Regions from separate parts of the Homo sapiens genome. Here region 2 is linked to region 1. The links come from fine-mapping of genetic effects on gene expression. Tissue or cell type: whole blood. Region 1 holds a variant in brackets; the other region holds the start of a gene. All regions are shown on one strand. Distances are from middle to middle.

Evidence for each region. PIP is the estimated chance that this variant, and not a neighbour inherited with it, causes the effect.
Region 2: it holds the start of SELENOW, and the variant in region 1 is fine-mapped to the expression of SELENOW in whole blood (INTERVAL, PIP 0.99).

Annotation. Positions count from the first base shown.
Region 1 is chr19:47,856,751-47,859,508 of GRCh38, forward strand. TPRX2 (tetrapeptide repeat homeobox 2) reads left to right here and starts at 2,485. Exons shown (of 3, transcript NM_001397347.2): 1 at 2,485-2,521. The coding sequence starts at 2,497. The variant T/G (reference allele first, on the strand shown) is at 1,451.
Region 2 is chr19:47,777,239-47,779,738 of GRCh38, forward strand. SELENOW (selenoprotein W) reads left to right here and starts at 1,465. Exons shown (of 6, transcript NM_003009.4): 1 at 1,465-1,576. The coding sequence starts at 1,548. RefSeq lists silencers at 1,353-1,612, 1,623-1,762.

The DNA of each region.
Region 1 (2,758 bases):
TGCCTCTGCCTCCCAAGTAGCTGGGGTTACAGGCGCCCGCCACCACGCCCAGCTAATTTTTTTGTATTTTTTTGTAGAGATGGGGTTTCACTATGTTGGCCAGGCTGGTCTCAAACTCCTGACCTCTTGATCCGCCCGCCTCAGCCTCCCAAAGTGCTGGGATTACAATCACGAGCCACCACGCCTGGCCTCAAATATGCAAAGTTTTACATTTAATTTATTTTAGAAATTATAGAGAGGGGGACCATCTACTCACATCTTATAGACCAAGAAAACTGTGAGATCATTCCTGTTGACAGCAGGGCCATCATCTGCTTTGGTGAATAATGTGTTCCCAGCCACCTAAAAGCCGAACAAAATGTGCAATTATGGTAAAATGTTTCCAGAAAGGAAGCAGAATATAGATACAATGATGGAAGAATGCCACAGTGAGATACTAAGCAACCTTTTAAGAGCGTGCAGGGAACTTGTAAACATACCATCTATTTGTTTTATAATTTATTTATTTATCTATTTCCAAGACAGGGTCTCTACTCTGTCGCCCAGGCTGGAGTGCAGTGGTTTGATCATGGCTCACTGCAGCCTCGAATTCCTGGGCTCAAGCGATCCACCCCCCTCAGCAGCCCAAGTAGCTGGGACTACAGGTGCATACCACCACACCTGGCTAGTTTTTTGTTTTTTTTTAAAATATATTTTGTAGCGATAAGGTCTCGCTATGTTGCCCAGGCTGGTCTCGAACTCCTGGCCTCAAGTGATCTTCCCCCCTTGACTCCCAAAGCCCTGGGATTACATGCATGAGCCACCATGCCCAGCCACTATTTGTTTTGTTTCAGTTTATATTTATTTATTTATTTATTTTGAGACAGAGTTTCACTATTGTTACCCAGGCTGGGGTGCAATGGCACGATCTTGGCTCATCACAACCTCCACCTCCTGGGTTCAAGCAATTCTCCTGCCTCAGCCTCCCGAGTAGCTGGGATTACAGGCATGTGCCACCATGCCCAGCTAATTTTGTATATTTAGTAGAGATGGGGTTTGTCTATGTTGGTCAGGCTGGTCTCGAACTCCCTACCTCAGGTGATCCACCCACCTCGGCCTTCCAAAGTGCTGGGATTACAAGCGTGAGCCACTGCGCCCGGCAGAACTTTCTTATATTTAAATGTCTATCTTCACAAAATAGTACCAGTGAGCTTGTTCATCTGCTTATGTCTTTATTGGCCAAATAAATAGCCACGGTGCAAAATCTCTGTGGTCACTACTGTGTTCCCAGCATGTCCTGTAGATGAAGCCGGACAATGTGTGCAATGAGGAATCATTGCTGGGGATGCTGCTTTCTACAATAGAACTCTAAGTAGCAGGTGAAAACAATGAGCGAGGCCCGTGGTAACAATGTCTACGTTTTATTGAATTTTGAAATTGGTTGCATGAGTCATTTCTTTTTCTTTTTTTT[T/G]GGGAGGGGGCCGGAGTCTCCCTCTGTCACCCAGGCTGCACTGCAACCTCTGCCTCTCAGGTTCAAGTGATTCTCTTGTCTCAACCTCCCAAGTAGCTGGGATTACAGGTGCCTGCCACCAGGCCCGGCTATTCTTTTTGTAGTTTTAGTAGAGACGGCGTTCTGCCATGTTAGCCAGGCTGGTCTCAAACTCCTGACCTCAGGCGATCTGCCCGCCTCGGCCTCCCAAAGTGCTAGGATTACAGGCGTGAGTCACCGCGCCCAGCCTTGCATGAGTCATTTTTAGCTCCCTGGATCATGAGCCTTGTCAATCTCCTTGACCCCTGAACCCATGTGGGTCCTGCTATGAGGAGATGAGGGCAGCCAGGGGTCTGACACAGCAGATGCATCTCTGAGGGACCTGACTTGTGTGAACCAAGGTAATGGGTCCCCTGCATACATCAGTAGCAGTCCATGGAAATGTCCATCAGACCTGTGTCCCCTCCTGGTTGGGGGAGCAGGAAACTTCAAGAATGACTAGTAGGGGCCAGAGTGGCCTCAAAGGACCAAAGAGGAGGCTGTGGGGTCATCCAGGAGAGAGGGATGGTGACTGGACAAGGCGGGCAGCCCGGGAGCCGGGAGGAGTGGGTAGACTCGCTGGCATTGATCATGTGGGGCCCCAGCCCTGGGAAGGAATAAGGATGACTCCTGGGGGCTGGCTGGCGGTGCCTCTCCTGAGATGGGGACCCCAACCACAGGTCATGATGTTGACTCCCCCGATCCCATGTGGAATACCACCTCGCCTGGGCTAGGGCCCATGAGGGTGAAACCAAGGCTGTGTTGTCCACTGAGGTTCCCCAGCTCCTAGCACAGCTCAGCAGGCAGTACCTGATCAGTGATGAGGGATTAATCCACCATTCAACTCCTCCAGGGGGCGGGACTGCAGGGCAGGGTGGGAAACGGAGGGTCCTGGCAGGGTGGGCCAGGGTGGGCACAGCAGAGAAGTGATTTAAGAGCCAAGCCCTTGTCAGTACACACTTGTGTTTGGGAACAGATCAGGACTCAGGATGCAAGACCCTGGTCATCTCCAAGGTGAGCAGGGACAGAGGTGTGAGGGGCCTGGGCTGATCCTGTGGCTGAGGCTGCAGAGTGCAAATCTGGGCAGCCAGAGAAGGGCTGGGCCTGTGCGGGCGGCTTCCTGTCCTGCAGACGGGGGAGAACTTAGTGGTGTCTGGGAAATGAAAAATCATGCAGCTGGGCGCAGAGTCTCACGCCTGTGATCCCAGCTCTTTGGGAAGCCAAGGTGGGAGGATCACTTGAGCCCGGGAC
Region 2 (2,500 bases), 80 kb before region 1:
GATTTCAGGTGTGACCCACTGTGCCTGGCCAGGCCTTTTCCTTTCTTTCTTTTTTCGAGACAGTGTCTTACTCTGTTGTCCAGGCTGGGGTGGCAGTGGCACAATCACGGCTCACTGCAGCCCCAAACTCCTGGGCTAAAGTGATCCTTCCACCTCAGCCTCCCCAGTAACTGGGAGTACAGGTACATGCCACCACACGGACTAATTTTAAAAGTTTTTGTAGAGATGGGGTCTTGCTATGTTGCCCCAGCTGGTCTCAGACTCTTGGGCTCAAGCAGTCCTCCTGCCTCGGCCTCCCAAAGCATTGGGATTACAGGTATGTGCCACCGTGCCCAGCCGCAGCAGGCCTTTTGTTTTTTTAGAGAGGGTCTTGCTTGGTGGCCTAAGCTGGAGTGCAGTGGTGCAATCACGGCTCACAGCAGCTTCCAAACTCCTGCGCTCAAGCGAGCCTCCTGCCTAAGCCTCTCAAGTAGCCTGGGACTGTAGGCACACACCACCACGCCCGGCTGATTTATTATCTATTTATTTATTTGAGGTGGAGCCTCGCTCTGTCACCCAGGCTGGAGTGCATTGGCCTGATCTTGGCTCACTGCAACCTCCGCCTCCCAGGTTCAAGTAATTCTCCTGCCTCAGCCTTCCGAGTAGCTGGGACTACAGGCACGCGCCACCACGCCCATCTAATTTTTGTATTTTTAATAGAGACGGGGTTCCTCCATGTTGGCCAGGCTGGTCTTGAACTCCTGACCTCAAGTGATCCGCCCGCCTCGGCCTTCCAAAGTGTTGGGATTACAGGCGTGAGCCAACGCACCCAGCCACTAATGTATTATTATTATTATTCTGTAGAGACGCAGTCTGGCTATGTTGCCCAGGCTGGTCTTGAATTCCTGCCTCTGCCTCCCAAAGCGCTGGGGTTACAGGCGTGAGCCACCGCGCCCTGCGGCTGCAGGTCTTTATAAGGCAACTGTGGGCCCTGGACCGCTCCCTGAAAACCTCCCCCTCAACTCCCTGTCTCCTCCCTCACCTGGTCTACCCCGAATCCTTCCCCTCTCGCCCCCTCGCCCTCTCCAGGGGAGGTGAGGGACTCAAGAATCGCGCCCTGCTTCTGTCCCCACCGCGCCGTCCCCAAGCCCACGCAGTGAAAAGACCACCCTTGAGGCTGATTCCGGGTCCAGCTGGGAGCGGCCAGCCGTAAATCACCGCCCCCGTGGGCCGTACCATTCTGGCCGGGGGGACCTGGGAGGGGACGCGCGGAGGGCTTCCCCCGGGGACTGCCTGTATCGAGACTCTCTCCAGCCCAACAGGAGGATGGGAAGGAGACTTGTGTGGGGGCCTCGGGCTGGCGGGTCGCGGGTTCCTTATCCTCCGCCTTGGCGCCTCTCCGCCCACCGCCCACCGCCCCTCCCTGGCATTGGTTGGCGCCAGGGGAAGCCGAGGCTCCATCCTTTCTGCGCAGGTTCCCGCCGCACTCGCGCAGACCTAGCGCGTCCAGGTGGGAGGTTAGTGTGGCCCGGGCGTCCGCTCCTCAGCGGATGTGGCAGCCCCGAGCCATGGCTCTCGCCGTCCGAGTCGTTTATTGGTAAGCCCAGCGGCCAGCGGCCCCCGTCCCCGACCCCCGCCGGGACCCGATTCTCGGAGCCGGGGTCAGGGAGCCCCGGGGAGAGGACCCATGGGAGCCCTTGTATGGGAAAAGGGAGCCCCTGTATGTGGGTGGGGTGGGCGTACGGAGGGGCGAAAAACAGAGGGCGGTCGTCCCTAGGCCCCGTCTTCGACTTGTGACACGCTGGGCATCTCGGGTTATAAAAGGTGGGGCTGAGACGAGTGTGTGTCAATTTCGAACCCCCGACTCCGGGGCTCCGCTGGGGAAGGGGCTGGGGGTCAGCTTTGTAAAGGGACCTAAGGCTCCTCCACCCTAAGGCTTCCCCTCCCCCAATATCCCGAACAGTCGCGGGGTGGGGACAGTGAGAGCCCAGAAGGTTCGAGAATGTCTCAGCCTGTGTTTCAGAAGCACTTGAATTGTTGGCCTCTGCCCAGTGGGTTCCCTTGGCCACGAACCCCACTCCTTTTCTGGCCTCAGTTTTCCGTCTGTGGCAAGAGGGAGGCTCTGTGTCAATACCGAACACGCTTAATTTCTGCAAGTCTCAGGAAGGGTATAATAGGATAGGATATAAATTACGTTCTCTCCACTCCCCAGCACCTAATACTGTGTGGCATGCTGTAGGTATTTAATAAATACGTGTTCAATGAATTTATCCTCCCAGGAATCCCTTAAGAGAGGGGAATTTTAGGCCAGGTGCCGTTGATCACGCCTGTAATCCAAACACTGGGAGGCTGAGGCGGGTGGATCGCTTGAGCCCAAGAGTTCGAGACCAGCCTGGGCAACCCAGGGAGACCCCCCCCTCGTCTCTACAGAAACTTAAAAAGTTAGCCGGGCATGGTGGCGCACTCCTGTAGTCGCAGCTGCTTGGGAGGCTGAGGCAGGAGGATCACTGGAGCCCGGAAG